2 separate regions of the Homo sapiens genome follow, and region 1 is linked to region 2. The links come from fine-mapping of genetic effects on gene expression. A gene starts in region 2. The other region holds a variant in brackets. All regions are shown on one strand. Distances are between the middles of the regions. Region 1 has its middle 27 kb from the start of NNAT. Region 2 holds the start of BLCAP (BLCAP apoptosis inducing factor).

Evidence for each region.
Region 1: its variant is fine-mapped to the expression of BLCAP in whole blood (INTERVAL, PIP above 0.99).

The regions. Positions count from the first base shown.
Region 1 is chr20:37,490,126-37,498,456 of GRCh38, forward strand. No RefSeq gene overlaps it. Among named protein-coding and RNA genes, the nearest start is that of NNAT, 27 kb to the right of the region's middle. The variant C/T (reference allele first, on the strand shown) is at 3,745.
Region 2 is chr20:37,523,703-37,532,033 of GRCh38, forward strand. BLCAP (BLCAP apoptosis inducing factor) reads right to left here and starts at 4,174. Exons shown (of 2, transcript NM_006698.4): 1 at 4,091-4,174. It also overlaps the pseudogene PPIAP3. RefSeq lists enhancers at 2,542-3,260, 3,978-4,695, 4,017-4,066, 4,157-4,466.

The sequences.
Region 1 (8,331 bases), 34 kb before region 2:
CAGGGACCCTCTATAGAAGCCAGAAGGCATGGAGTCTGGGTAGTATTAAGGTTGGCCTCCCAGGCACAGAACAGGATGGAGGATAGAGTATGGCTCTTGGAGGGGACAGCAAAGGCTATCCGGACCAGTCACCAAATGACCTCCTAGCTACTCATTTCAATGCACCCTTTTCCTTTCTTAACCACCCTACAGAATTTGATAATCAATTTTAACTTTTTCAGGATCAGAAAGTGCACCACAAAGGTCTTTTCCATGCTTTGCTCTCTTCCCTTGAGACATCTCCAATCAGACCCACTTGTTTCCTTTCAGCCGGGCTCAGAGGATAGATCCCAGCTCACTTACAAGTCTTTCTTCTTTTCATCCTCATCCTCTTTCAAGACCAGGAAATTCTAGGGTTTCTCCTGTTTTCAAAAACCCTCCCTTGATCGCTCACATTTTTCTTGCTACCATTCAACTCCTTCCCTAGTCATCCAACCTTCTCTAAGGAAGGTTCTGCCACTCCTCCACCTATTCAGTCCGTTGACCCTGGGGAAGCTAGCTTTTACCCCTTTGCCCCCAAAACAGTTCCTGCCAAGGTTCATAGGAGCCCCCGATTGCTGGATTCAAAGGACTTTCTGCTTCTTATTTTTCTGAGATTCGGGGCATCGAGCTGTGGTGATTACTTTCTCCCTGAAACTCTTCCCTATCTTGGTTGCTATGGCAACCTCCTCTCCTAGTTATTTGTCTCATTGCTCAGGTCCTTCCTTTTCCTCTCTCCTTTGTCACCCACCCACACCTCCGTCAGCCCCTCACATGTCTCCGGGACTCATGATGCTATGAGCTCTCTCCCATCTTCCCTCTACACTCTCCACCTCCCATCTTCCCTCTACACTCTCTGCCTGATGGTCTTGCTCATTCCTGGAGTCCCATTAACTTCTGTCCCCAGGTTGGTCCCTCCAGTCAGATTTCTTCCTGAGTCCCAGCTCTGGCATCCAGCTGTCTGCTAACCTCCTCCTGGCTGTACCCCCGGCCCCTCATCTCTACTTCTCTGAGACTGAGCCCATTCCCCCCACCCAAACTGGCTACCATGCTGTGTTCCCCATCTCAAGCACCTCCTCACCATCTGCCAAGGAACCCAAAGACACACGAGAATCACCCTTGGTTCTACCCTCTCTCTCACCCCAACAGCCAACAATCCTTATGCATTTCTGACTTTATTTTCTAAATTGGTCTCCCTGCCTAGAGACTATCTTCTTCCAAATATAGTCTTCACACTGACCATCTCAGTGGTCTTCCCAAATAACAAATCTGAATGCATCACTCTAGTGTAAAAACTTTCAACAGTGCCCAGTGACTGCAGGACAGTGTCCAAACTCCTTGACATGGGGGCATCCAAGGCTCTGCAGGGTCTGGTCTCTGTCCACTTCATCTTGCTCTTCCCATCCCCTCCTTCTTTTGTCATAGTCCAGGAACACCAAATACCCTCCAGCTCACTCCTGCTGCTCCTCATTCCCAAGGCTATGCTTGTGCTGTTCCCTCTGTTTAAAAGGTCTTTCCAGTTCCTTCTAGCTTGCTCATTCCTGCTCATCTCTAAGGAGATAAGTCACCCTAAGACCAATGGTCACCTCTTCTGGAAAGTTCTGTGCATATTTATGTTTCGTTACTGCACTTACCATACTGTACTATGATGGTCCATTTAAATGCTGTGTAGTAGGATCATATTTTATATATTATTTGATGTGCTTCCCCACCCCCCACCACACTTCCTTGCCCATCACCATGTTGGTGCACAACAAACTACACCAAACATTAGTGGCTTACAAACACAATTTATTGGCCAGGTGCAGTGGCTCACACCTGTAATCCCAGCACTTCGGGAGGCCGAGGCAGGCAAATTACTTGAGCTCAGGAGTTTGAGACCAGGCTGGACAATATGGGGAAGCCCCATCTCTATCAAAAATACAAAAATTAGCCAAGTGTAGTGGTGCACGCCTATAGTTGCAGCCACTTGGGAGGCTGAAGTGGGAGGATTGCCTGAGCTTAGGAGGTCCGACGCTGCATTGAGCCATGATTGTGCCACTGTACTCCGGCTAGATGACACAGAAAGACCCTGTCTCAAAAACAACAACAACAAAAACAAAAACAGTTTATTATTCCTCATGGTTCCGGGGTTGATAGGGCTCAGCAAGGTGGTTCTTGCTTAAGTGTTTCATGCAGCTGCAGTCAGATGGCAGCTGGGGCTGGAGTCATCTGCAGGCTCATTCACATAGTTGACAGTCAGCTGGGGGCTTGCTGAGACCGTTGACTGGAGTGACCACATGTGGATTTACCACAGGACCTGCACTTCTCATAGCATGGCAGCTGGCTTGTAGGAGGGAGTGTTCCAAGGCCAAGCATTGCAAGAGGCCTGGCAGAGGCCATAAGGCTTCCTGCGACCTAGTCTTACAAATCCCAGAATGTGCCTTCTGCTATATTCTATTGGCCAAGAAAGTCACTAAGGCCAGCCTAGATTCATGGGGAGGGAATTACACTTCTCTTCCTGATACAAGGAGTATGATATATATCGCAGGAAGGCAAGTATTGGTGGTGGCCATCTTTGGAGACTAGCTACCAAGGTCACTTTTTCCTGATTCAGTCAGAGCTTTGCAGGATTTGGGTTGTTGCAGCATGAATGCAGTGAGAAAGATGGTCAGTAGTTTCAAAGAGTCTCTTGAAACTTACAGCAGACAGGATGCTTTGTTGCAGTAGCCGGGCTTTTGTAAAGAGGAAAGAGCTTGAGGGACTGAGCACTTGAAATTGATGCCAGAATGGTAAACAGGGAAGAATACAGAAGCTGTTTTTCTGCCTAAAAGGAAATAAAAGTTTGACCAGCTAGTGGGAATAAAGGAATCACAAAGAGATGTAGCTCATAGTAGATACTAGAGCTCCCAGAGTAAATTTGAGGTATCCCAGAGCAGAAGGGACTGTTGCCTGGCTCCTCAGGTGTTGCCTGAGAGAACACAAGCTCCTGGCATGGGCTGGAGAGAGGCTGAGGACCCCTGGTGGGAGAAGGTGGCTGGGAGGTGTCCTCCAGGGTCCTGTTTGTCTTTGTAACACGGTGGTGATGGTGAGGGTGTAGAGAAGAGGGTGAGTGTAGCCGGTGGACTTGGAGGTGCCTCATGGTCAGGACAAAGATTTAGTAGGGATTCTGTGGCTCAGTGGATGGCAGTGGATAGTTGCTGGCAGACCTGAATCACTTGTATGCCCCTGGTGCCAGGTCAGAATAGAAGCTCCCAGAACACTGACTACCCACAAGGAGAAGGAGCAGTGGGAAGCAGAGGAGCTGGAAGTGGACCAAGAATCTACTTAAGATAGTCTTTTGAAATGTCCAGATGTGGCTGGGTTTACCTTCAACTAAGTTTGTGCTACTGAGCAGAATGGAGTGGCAGTGGTGTTGGGAAGAGTTAACCTGAGTAATGAAGCAACATTTTGGAGAGGCTCTGTTTGTAGGTTTCTGGGCTAGCACCTGGGGCCACCTTCAACCTTTCATTCTGTCTCATCTCTCCCGTGCACTTGGCACCATGCCCCCTATTTCTACCTCCAAAACTTCTCTTGCCTCCGCCTTCTCTCCATCTGCACTGTTGCTTAGCTCAGACCTGCGTTATTTCTCACCTGGACAACTGTGGTGCCTCTTAGGTACTTCCCTACCTCCAGGCTGTTGGGGCCTGATCAAACCCTTTTCTGCTGGCAGCCAGAGGGATGACCTCTGTTCTTTTTCTAGAACTG[C/T]GCCAATCCTTCTTGGAAATCATTCTGCACCCCAACCTATTTGCTTTGAAATTCACCTTCTCATTTATTGCACAACCCACTTTAATGGCCATCATTGATTTGCCAGAGGTGAACCCCAACTCAACTGGGCCAATGGAAGCTTTTGTCTAGATTTCTGGACTTGGGAACAGAGAGAGCTCATAACATGTATGGAGCACTTAGTGTCCATCCCCGAGGTAAGTACTTGATGGACATCATCTCCTTTGACCCTCACAGCATTAAGCTGGTGCTGTTGTTATCCCCATTTCCTATGTGAGGACACTGAAGACAGAGAAATTAGACAAAACAATGAGTAAGCAAGTAGCCCTGATGCTTAACCAAGTTCCTGCGCTCCTACCTCGATCTCTTTGTGGTCATGAACCTGAGAGGTGTGAAACATTGGCAGTCACGAACGCCAGTGTGTGGAAGAGGCATCCCTGAGAGAGGGAGCTGGCAGGCAAAGAGACGTGGAGACATGGAGATGGGAGAGGGGCAGGCTGCCAGTTAAGTCCCTGGCCCCGGGGGACCGGAAGGTCAACTGAACCTAGCTTGGCCTGTGGTTTGCGTATAGAAGCCAATTAAGTTCCTTCTGTGCCTGAGCTGGTTTCAGTTGAGCTTCTTCCACTGGCAAAGAAACTTAACTAAATGAAAGTGATCACACCTGTCTCCCTGCTTAAGAACAGCCACGGCCAGGCATGGTGGCTCACGCCTGTGATCCCAGCACTTTGAGAGGCCAAGATGGGCAGATCACCTGAGGTCAGGGGTTCGAGACCATCCTGGCCAACATGGTGAAATCCTGTCTGTACTAAAAATATAAAAATTAACTGGGCGTGGTGGCACACGCCTGTAATCCCATCTACTCGGGAGGCTGAGGCAGGAGAATCGCTGACCTGGGAGGCAGACATTGCAGTGAGCCGAGATCATGCCACTGCACTCCAGCCTGGGCAACAGAGTGAGACTCCGTCCATTAAAAAGCAAAACAAAAGAAAAAACGGCCACTGGTTCCTCATTACCCTTGGATAGAAGCTCACTTCTTGTCATGACACAGCAGCACTGCAGGTGCAGCCAGCCTGATCTGTCACTGATCTCCCTCCTGCCACACCCATGCCCCCAACCCTGTGTGTCTCAAATCGGCTGGACTCCCTGCAGTTCCCTTAAGAACCCAGGAAGGTTGCTGGCCCTCCAGGATCAGGTGAGGTGAGATCCACCCACAGCTTGCTCCTCATCCCCAGCTCTAACGCCCCTTGAATCCATCTAGGATTTCACCTGGGCAGTCTCACCAGCTGTGGGCCTTTCCTTTTCTGGAGTCAAAACTTAGCTTCTCTTATGTGTCAGCTCCTAAGAACATTTGACAACATCTTAGAAAACTGCAAAGTATCCAAATGTACCCAGAGGCAACCACTGTTCACATCTTGACACACTTGTTATCAGAATTGTTTGTTTTTAGGGACAGTGCCTGGTTCTGCTGACCAGGCTGGAATGCAGTGGCTATTCACAGGCACAATCACAGCGCACTGCAGCCTTGAGCTCCTGGGCTCAAGTGATCCTCCTGCCTCAGCCTCCCAGGTAGGTGGGAATACAGGTGCATGATGTGCCTGGCTTATCAGAATTTTTTTTTTTAATCCAAGAGAATAGAAGGGCTTTTGATGAAGAGCAGCAAGTTCGGGATGGACCCTCTCCCAACCCCAAACTCTTACCCGAGAGTGTGTGATCTCTGCTCCTGGAGGTTGTCTCCTAGCTGTAAGCTCTCAGCTTGTATTAGGAAGAATGCTTTCACCAGAACGTAATATATCACCTAAAAGTGGCTAAGCAACAAGAACATTTATTTCAAGTAATGAAAAGTTCAAAAGTCAGTGGTTCCAGGTATCTGAGATCTGAGTGAACAGAGAACCATGAGTCTCCTGGCCTTCCCCTCCTGGTCACAAGATAGATAGCTGTCAGGGCTCCAAGCACTATGTTTTCACTCAACAGCACCTAGGCAGAAAGAAAGGGGGCAGCCAAGAAACTTCTCCAAGTGCATCCCTCTTTTTCTTTTCTTTTTTCGAGACACGGTCTCACTCTGCCACCCAGGCTGGAGTAGAATGGCATGGTAGTAGCTCACTGAAGCCTCAACCTCCCAAGCTAAAGCAATCTCCTCACCTCAGCCTCTTGAGCAGCTGGGACCACAGGTGCATGCCACCACGCCTGGTTAACTTTTGTATTTTTTGTAGAGATGGGGCTTCACAATGTTGCCCAGGCTAGTCTCGAACTCCTAGGCTCAAGCAGTCTGCCCGCCTCAACCTCCCAAAGTGCTGGGACTACAAGGCGACAGCCACTGTGCCTGGCCCCACATGCATCTCTTTAATTAGGGAGGAAAGTGTTTCCCTGAAACTGCCTGAAGATATCCCCTTACAAGTCCCAAGTCAAAACTGGGTCATGGGAGCCCTCTAGACAGCATCTGCTACACCCCATTTCTAGTTCATAAGATCCACTGATGTCCCAGTGGATTAGGCATTGGGTCACTTGGAAACTACTCCCCTCTATCCCTACCTCTCCTAACACAGTCTTTAAGTACCTCTGTTGGTTATCTTTTTAAGAAACCTACTTGCCCCTTCATTCCTTATTCTACCACATGTCCACAGAAGCTCTTGCCTCCCCACTATTGTCCCTGTCAACCTTCCTACCCTCTTCCCTTCACTGCTACCTCCCAACTTTTATATCTTTACTTTCACATTGTGACAGATGATAATGTTGACATTCTATTCTGCAACCATAATAAAATTCAGGTCAATACAAAAGTTGAATATTAATGAAAACTAGAAAGATAACATTTTCATTATTTAAGTATACCATATATTTCCTCTGGGTATCTATATATGTAAGTTTTTAGAAACGTCTAGAAAAGTCCACATTGAGCCCATTACTGTGGTTACCTCTGGAGAGGAGGAAGGGAATAGGGTGGCAGTGGGTGGCCAAAAGGGACTCCAGCTTCATCTGCAATGTTCTCTTTTTTAAAAAAGGGGAACGTATTCATGTTTTGCTTGTGTCATTCGACTTCAATTTTTTAAAAAATTACTATTTATTTTCAGCCAATAACGTGGGCTCCGTGTGTTTGGATGTGCTTGCATGTTTGTGCCCAGGGAGGAGGAATATTTACTTTGTGTGTGCCTGTGAATGAAGTAGAGTGATTAGTAAGCAGATGAAAAAGAAATGTAGCAAGCAAAAGCAAAACAAAAAAGGGGGCTGGAGAAAACTAATTCACAACAATAATAAAAAGTATAGGAATAAACCCATTAGGAAATGGGCAAGTTCTTTATGGGGAGAACAACAGTGCATGAGTGAAGGACATACAAGATAATAAGAATAAACGTAGAGCTCTACTGTATTCATGAATTCAAAGGCTCGGTATTGTATTGATGTCAATTTCTCCAACTTGACAAGCTGGCTTTACAATTCATGTGGAGGAGTTAGTGTGCGGTACTAGTTAGCTAAGAGAGCTGAGAAGGAAGCACAACGAAACATGGCATTTGACTTCACAGATACCAAAAGGTGGGACAGCAAAGAAAACAGTCTTGTACTGAAAGGAATAAATGGATTGTTGGGAAAAACAGGGGCTTCAGACACACCTGACTCAGAATATCAGGGAGTTTTACTTCAGGTCAGAGGGGAAAGGAAGAACTAGTCAACCCCTCATACTGCAATAATTGGCTGCCCGTTTGGAGAAAGGTTAGATCATATATCAATATGATAATCAAAATATATTCCAGATGCATAAAGAACCAAATAAAAACAAAATTATAAAATTATTAGAAAAGAAGAAATAATATATTTAAATCTTAGGAGTAGGGAAGGACTAAACATGGTATCTGTATAAAAAAGGATCAAAGGAAAAGATTGATAAATTGGATTATGTCAAAACTAATAACTTCTAACAAAAGATTCTACAAAGAGTTAAAGGCAATGACAAGCTGGAAGAAAATATTTGTCACATATCTACAAAAGATCAATATCCAGATTATATTACAAAACTCCACAAGCCAGTGGGATAAAGACAACCTAATGCTTAAAATGAGAAAAAATAACAGGCAATTCAGAAAAGAGAAAATACAAATGCTCAATATACATATGAAAATCTCACAAGCAAACAGGAAAATACAAATTTTAAAAAGGATTCAATTTTTCACCCATGAGATTGGCAAATATTTAAAACAACCGCCTATGGGTGTGGGGATTACAGCCCTCTCATACCCTCTGGCTGGAAGCTTAAATGGTACAGAAATCATGGAGGACAGTGGTAGTATCTGCTAAAACTAAAACTGTGGACATATTAAGACCCAACATTCCATTTCCCAATCACTCCCAGAGATATCCCACCACAAAGGAACATGCAATGTGGTTTCTGCAGCACTGCTCATGATGGAGGAAAGAAAAAGAAGCAATTAAATGTCCATGGAGCTTACAGAAGATAAAATGTGGTACATTCATGGGAATGAATACAACATAGCTATTAAAGGCAAAAGCAAGCTATGTGTAGCAATAGGAGTATATTGTAAAAATGTAACACTGAGTGAAAAAAACCTGCAGCTTATA
Region 2 (8,331 bases):
TGATTTCTTTAGCGGCATCAACATACACTTCTAAGACTCAGCTGATGTGCCCACTGTGGAACAGGCACACTGCTTGGGGGAGGGAGGAAAAGGAGGGCCATCAAAATTGCAATAAGCTGGGCCCCTCACACACCCAACCCCATCTCAATGCTGTCCTGTGATAAAGGACCATCTCCCCCTCTCCCCAAAGAGAAAGGCTGACATCTTCACTTGTGGTCCTGGAATAAGGGACCACTTCCCCCTCCCCAAAGGGATAGGTGCTTTACTTGTGGTCTTAGGATAAGGGGCCAAAGCAAGTATCACTTTGGGAAAGATGAGAGGAGGGGAAAAAGGTGGGAGTAGCCCTCCAAAGAGGTACTAGGGACCAAGGGGGTGATTTCAGAACACAAAGCCTTACTTCAGGTCTCCATCCAGGAGCCCCAAAGAAATGAGTAGTGGGCAGGGTGGACAGTGGCTTAGACAATGAGTATGGGATAAGAGGTGCAGCGTGGCGCCTTCTTCACCCAGCTTAATGCTGCAGGCCCCACATCCACCAGGACCACTACAAAGACAATCTGCCTGGCCTTGCTACTCTGCAGGGTCTCCTGGCCCCACCTCACCCCAGAAACCTCTCTCCCCAATACTGGGTTTCTGCTTTTCCCAGCACCAGCCTCCGTATTCTTAGGAATGCTTACCAGGTCCGTGGCCCTGGGCTCTCCCCTGCCATCACGTCAGGGTGGGCAGTGCTCGGCCTCGGACTTGTCTTCCTCTCCCACTCCCCAGTGAGTCAGGGCTCTTTCTACACGGGGTCAGCTGACTGTCTCACCAAATGGCCCTGCCGCCTGTTCAGCCTTGTCTCTGGCTTTATGTGTCCCTGTCACTACACACCTGTTGCTGGGTCAACACCAAGGGAGGGAGTTGGAGGGCCATAAATCTCTCTTCCTGCCACTTCTTCGAATCCCTTAGTCACAGCTGTCACAAATACTTCTGAAGCACAAAGTACCTTGCCCCCTTAAGCCTGATCATGTTTCCCTCCCCTAAGCAAGCCCTTAAGTTTCTTAGCCCAATCACCAGCACCTCTAAAGGCATCTAAAACTTCATTCGGTATCAGAGAATTATAGGGGTGGGGAGGTGCAGATCCCGGTTCTGGTCTTGACTTTGCCATCAATCAGCCTAGGGAACCTGGACATGTCACCTTGTACCCTTCATCTCCAGTTTCCCTCTCGAAGAGGGCCTTTGAGATGCCAGTGAACCCTAACACGCTAGAAACTGCCATAGCAGTGGCAATCAGGACTCATCAGGACTTGAAGAGGATGTGCAATCTGAGACTTCATCTTTCTTAGGCTGGGTGGCTATAGCTGCTACCATAGCCTGAAGGTGAGGCAGGTCTCCTCTCGCCCCAGTGTGACTCATCAGCAGGCAATGCCCACACCTCCTCCCTTCTGAACCCCATATCTTGGCAGGCCTCAAAACTGGGAGTTTCTGTGGTTTTCCACACTAAACCCACAGAATCATGAACATACCAACATGTGTTCTCCATGAAGGCTGACCCTCCCTTCGGAGCTTTTGAGGGGTATGCCCATAGCCCCACTGCCCTTCTTGATGCTCTAACCTCAGCCCAAGTGACAAGGTAGCAGATTTCAGGGAGGTAGGCCAAAGCAGCATGGTAAGAGCTGGCTGCTCTGGACACAGCACCTCTTGTGCCCCCACTTAGAGGACAAGAGGCTCCTGGTAGCCCCAGAGCTTTCCATATCATCTTGGCAAAGCCCTTTTCCTCCATCCGTCCATCAGCAGGGCTGTGAGTGTGGCAAGGTGAGATGACAGATTTCCAGGCAAGGGCTGCCCTGGTGGCCTGCACCTGCACGTGTGGGCTTCAATGTGCAATGTCCACTCCCCATTTGCATCCTCCACCCACAAAACTTCATGTTCTGGCAGCAAACTTAACCCACCAGAGAAGACAGTGCATTCACTTTCCATCCAGTGCAATGCCATGCAATGCCTAGATGGTCCAAACACACCTTGTTTATAAAATTTTTTCCACAAACTATACCATTAAACATTTTATTCTGATAGAGAGCAATGCGAAGAATTGAAAATGACTAGTGTTTTACTGCACAGCCCTTAGTCACAGTGCTGAACGTCCCCTTTGCCTAAACCATCATTGCTCCCAGAAGACTTTGCCCCCACAAGGCCAAGGACAGAGCAGATCGGTTGGGAAGGAATTGGGAATAGCTCTGTGGGACTCCAGCAACAGGTGAGAGACCCTTGAGACTAATACTCCAGGATGTTAGTTTCTTAGCCTAACGAACTGAAGTTAAGTCCAGAGGTGTTTAGGTACCATGACTTTTAGGGGTGCAGGGTGCTATGTGACACTGTTACCTTTATCTGTGGAATATTTGAATTGTCACTGAAGGAAGGGATGTCTGCTGTCAGGGAAGGGCAGGGGCAAGTTCCTTGAGCTTGGGCAACGGATTACTGTTGGATCGGGGAGCAGGTTTGCTGTGAGCCATTTACTAGATATCTATTTTGAAATGTGTATCTCCTCAGGAGCCAACACCCCAAAGGGAGATTCTGAATTTGCAGTTAACTTCCCCCCCCCACCGCCCCCACCCCCCCTCAGAGATTTAAACGTGTGCACTCATGCACATACACAAAACACTAGTCAAACAACAATCTCTTTTCCCCCCGGTAACCTCTGACTTCCTCTATATGCCCCAGAGACACGTTGTCACCATCTTCCCTGGGAGTGATCCTGTTTATCCTCCCCTCCCCGACTTGCCCTCCCACAGGGCCCATGCATGCCCCAGCAGGATCCAGATTCCTGAGCATTTCCAGAGCAGGAAGTCAGAGAGGCAGGCAACGCGTGGTTCTTGGTATATCGCACAGGGACAGGCTTGAAATGGAATGCATGTGTTTCAAAGATAGGAGAACAACAACAAAAAAAGACAGTCTAACCCAGATTCCTCTTTGAAACAACATATTACAGATTAAAGGTTAAACTGTTTTTGGCAGCAACTCTAACAAGACTAATTTCAGATATGGAATTGACCTGGTCACTGGAAACCGACCAGGCTTCCCGTGATCAAATCTTTTAACAGATTTGCTTGACATTAATTAGTCTCTGATTTAAAACAAACAAGCAAACAAGATCTAACACTTGGCATTAGCACTTAAGCTGGAACTTTTTTTTGGTCCCAGCTTTGGTGTTGCCGTCCAGAAGGCTGACGGGATGACTGGACCATGTCAGGCAGGGCAGAGAAGCCGTCCCCAACACACCAGTTCCCTGAAAGGGATAGACGATCCAAACCTATAAACAGAAAGGCTGTTTCTTTCCGAGGACAGACCCCAGTCTCCCAACATTCGGCGATGAAATGGGACACGGAGGCCTGGAAGGAAACTAAAGGAGATTTGGAAAGGGGAAGGAAAAAACAACTGTCCCCCATCCCCCATGCTTCCTTTCCAGGCCATTAGTGCGCCAGGCATTCCGTTCCTTCAGCTGCCCTTGAGGGCCACTCCCCACGTCTATAGAAGGAAAGGGAAGGGATGTCCACCCTTGATGTAAAGTTGGAGGGAGTAAGAAGCGCCCGCGACTCTTAGCAGAGCGTCAGCCTATCACCCCAGACACCGAAGCGGAGCCTCAGGAGACCCTCTCTCCCCTCACCCCCACGTCCCCCCACCTCCCCCCCAAAAAAGCAACTAAAGCAACGCAACTAAACTGATGGGGACAGAATGACAGGCCTCTCACAAGCTGGGCACCCTGCCGTGGAACCCGGGGCTGCAGAGATGGTGGTCGCGCTCCCAGCCCCGTGCCCCCGGCTCTGCCTGTCTCATCCTGCAAGGGCGCTGACCTTGGACAAGGCCAGAGCCAGCACCCAGGAGTACTATGACCCACCTCCGGGCTGGGAAGGGACCCCCCAAGGCCCAGGCTAGGTCCAATCACGGCAATCACCTGAAGCCGGACAGGGGCGCCCTGCCTTCCCGGGGTATGCGGAAGGAAAACCCCAGTGACGGGGACCCGGCGACGCCTAAGGTGACCCAGAAGGGACAATATGGCGGCGCGGCCGCATGGAGGGCCTCTCATCCCGCCCCAAGCAGGTTGACGCCACGGTACCTGCAAGCCCTGCCATGGCGCCGCCGCCACTGTCGCCGTCTGCCGCAGCCTGCCTCCACCTCAGCTCGCCACCGACGCCGCAGGAAGCCGGGGAGACGCCCCCTTAGTCTTCTAGTCGAGCCGGCCGAGGACCCATCCTGGGATCGGGCTGTCTACCGCAAACGCCTGATCACAAGGTCCGAAGTGGGGGCTCATCCTCGCCCCATTTCCCGTAAATATCAGCCACAGACCACCTTTGAGGACTTTGTATGCACTTTTACAAAACTCTGGGAGCCCCGAGATCTTCAAGCCCGAATAATTTTTATCAGGCGCAGTGTGGACAGCCCCGAAGCGCGGCCGGGTCCCCTCATGCATATGCAGCAGATTGTGATCCTTACTCCGTGAGCGCTGGGCGGGCCGGGTTGTGTTCATGTTGGTGAACCCGCTTCGTTCTTGCCCGCGTGGATGGTCCGTGGACTCCGGGAAAACCTTCTCGTGGCTCAAAGTCCACCCCCTCCCTAGCGTTTCATCATGCAGCCAAGGCTCAGGAGCTGAAAGGTCCGGGCTCAGAACTTGGGACTGCCTTGGGTCAGGCCTCGGCTCCCCCACTTGCCCCGTACCTTGGGCCAGCGAGCCCCTCGCCCACCCCGACCCGGCTTCTGTTGAAATGCCCACCTTAGGGCTTTTATGAGGCTTGAATGAGTCCGTGTAGTCATTTATTAGCTAATTAAGCATATTCCTTGGGCGCTTACTGTACCCAAGCGCAGTGCTAAGGGCAGGTAGAGTCGGTAACCTGGGTCTGTCCCTGACCTCAAGGCACTGCCAGTCTAATGGCGGGTAGGCGGGGAGACAGTCATATAATCACTGTATATTAGTGACTTTAATCAATACATAATTACACATCATGGGAAGTGCTGTGAGAAGAAGTAGAGAGTGTTAGGAGAAATTAATGGAGTACTAATGTAGGGAAAGGGTGGAACCTCCTTGGGAAGATGGCATTTAGGTTGAGAAACAAAGGACGATTAGGGTAAGAGTGAGAGGGGAAATGTTCTAGGCAGAAAGAACATTTGTCCCAGATCTGGAGCTGGGAAGCGGCAGAGTTGGGGTGAGGTGAGCACAGAAGAAAACAGGTCAGCTACATACTGAATTTGGCTTTTCTCTTGAGAGTCAGGGAAGCCATTTTCATCAGGAAGAGGATAGCAAATTAGGATTTCTGAAAGGCCACCCAGGCCGCATGGCTTGGAAAGCACTCAGGAGTGGGTGTAGGCAGACCAGTTAGGAGGTGGTTGCAGCTTTCCAGACAAAAGCCAATGCTGACTCAGACAGGGTGGTAGCTTGGGGAGGTGAAGGGAAGGGTGGAAGATTGGACTTGGGTGGATGTGGAGGCATTGGCAATAACTCCTCGCTAGGTTTTAGCCTTGAGTAAATGAAAGGGTAAAAGATTCCTTGACCAAGACAATAAAGCCTGAAAGAGGAACGGACTGAGGGGGAAGATCAAGTTCGGCTTTGAGAAGTTAAGTTTGAAATGTCGGGGCAACATGCAGGCAGAGAGGGTGAGTAGGCAGGTTTATGTGACACAGAAGCTGCGAACGGAGGCTGGGGCAGGAGATACATATTTGGGGGCCATCAATACAAAGGTCATGGTGCTGGGTGAGAACGCAAGTGAAAGAAGGTGGAGAGAAAAGAAGAGGAGGATCCGGGAAAGGAGACTAAGAAGCAGTGGCCAGTGGGGTAGAAAGAGGACCAAGTGAGTGTGGGTCCTAGAGAGGAGGTTTCAGGAAGGAGGGAGTGCTCAGTGGGGCTGATGCTGTTGAGAACAGAAATGGAGCCGTTGGGGTTTGGGAATAAAGAAGGTTGGTGGACTGTATCTTTTATGTTGCAAGTTAAACACACAACTACATCAAGTGGCTTAAAAAAATAAGTAGCCTGCCACTCAGTGGCTAGGCAGTGTCATCAAGGACTGAGGTTCATTTTATCTTCTGTCCTTGTGCTGGTTTATGCTCATGGCCACAAGATGGCTATCCAGTTCCTGAGGTCACATCCAAAGCAAGGAGATGTCCATTTCTCCTCCAGCTGAGACTCAAAACAGGCCTGAATGTGGCCTCCCACCATCCTGCTGCTTACAGGCTAAAGGATCAATGCATCCATGGCAGCCACACCCAGTATCCAACACTGAATGACAAGAGGAGTCTTGTAGTGGAAGCTCTTGTTTAGAAAAAGAGAGAGCTGGCTTTGCAGATGCCGCTGGGATCCCCATACTATCAGCCATGGTCAGCCCCACCTTGTTCTTTGACATCACTGTCGATGACGCGCCCTTAGGCCCCTACTCCTTCGAGCTGTTTGCAGACAAGATTCCAAAGACAGCAGAAAACTTTCGTGCTGTGAGCACTGGAGAGAAAGGATTTGGTTAAAAGGTTTCCTGCTTTCACAGAATTATTCCAGGATTTATATGTCAGGGTGGTGACTTCACATGCCATAATGGCACTGGTGGCAAGTCCATCTGTGGGGAGAAATCTGATGATGAGAACTTCATCCTAAAGCATACAGGTCCTGGCATCTTGTCCGTGGTAAATGCTGGACCCAACACAAACGGTTCCCAGTTTGTCATCTGCACTGCCAAGACTGAGTGGTTGGATGGCAAGCATGTAGTCTTTGGCAAGGTGAAAGAAGAAAGAAGGCATGAAGATCGTGGAGGCCATGGAGCGCTTTGGGTCCAGGAATGGCAAGACCAGCAAGAAGATCACCATTGCTGACTGTAGACAACTCCAATAAGTTTGACTTGTGTTTTATCTTCACCACCAGACCATTCCTTCTGTAGCTCAGGAGAGCACCCTTCCACCCCATTTGCTCCCAGTATCCTAGAATCTTTGTGCTCTCGCTGCAGTTCCCTTTGGGTTTCATGTTTTCCTTGTTCCCTTCCATGCCCAGGTGGATTGCAGAGTTTATGATTATGAAATAAAAACTAACAAAAAAAGAAAAAGAGAGCTGAATGTTGAGAGGCTGTGGAGCAACAAATTCTTGCAGTGCTGACGGCAGAGCAAATTGGTACAGCCACTTTGGAAAACCAGCATCTACAAAATCTAAACATACACCTATGCTGTGATCTAGAATTTCCACTCCTAGGTATGTACCCGAGAGAAATGAGTGCCTATGTTTACATGGAGACTTGTGCAAGAATGTTCATAGCAGACTTATTCATAGCTCAAATTGGAAATAGTTCAATGTCCATCACTGGAGAATGGATAAATTGTGGCATGTTCATGCAATGGAATACTGTGTTTTACATATAAAAGAACAAACTACTGTTACATGTAATAGCACCAGTTAATCTCACATATAGTATGTGGACTAAAAGAAGCCAGATACAAAACAGTACATACCATATGAATCCATTCATATAAAGCTCAACTAATCTATAGGGTTAGAAATCAAAATGGTAGTTACCTGGGTCAGGTCAGGAGTAGGGATGGGAAAGGAGCAAGAGGAGCTTTTCTGGGATGCTGGAAGGATTATATCTTCTTCTGGCTGGTGATTATGTAAGTGAAAATTCATCAAGTAAAAATTCACCATAAGACTAGGGGACTTCGGGAGGCAGAGGCTGCAGTGAGCCAAGATCGTGCCACTGCTCTCCAGTCTGGGCGACAGAATGAGACCCTGTTTCGGGGGAAAAAGAAAGAAAGAAAGAAAAAAGACTGGGGGCTTTATATACTTTACGTATGTTATACCTCAAGAAAAATAGAAGAAAGGGGCTGGGTGTGGTGGCTCACGCCTGTAATCCCAACACTTTGGGAGGCCAAGGCAGGTGGATCATGAGATCGGGAATTTGAGACCAGCCTGGCCAACATGGTGAAACCCTGTCTCTACTAAAAATATAAAAATTAGCTGGGTGTGGTGGCACGCGCCTGTAATCCCAGCTACCCGGGAGGCTGAGGCAGGAGAATCACTTGAACCTGGGAGGTGGAGGTTGCAGTGAGCCAAGATGGCACCACTGCACTCCAGCCTGGGCGACAGAGCGAGATTCCATCTCAAAAACAGAAACAAGAAAAATGGAAGAAAGGAAGGGGTCCTGCCATCCCATGGAATGTGACATGCTGCTAAACAAGGATCAGGTCTGTTTTGCGGGATACCACCTTCCAGTAACTTCAGGCTGAGTGTTAGCATGTACAAGGCCTCAGTGGCCAGCCCTTTCTCCCTGGGGCCCAGAAAACTGGGGAAGCTGAGGCAGGGCTTCTAATGCACATGGAACTCGCTCCTGCTCAGCT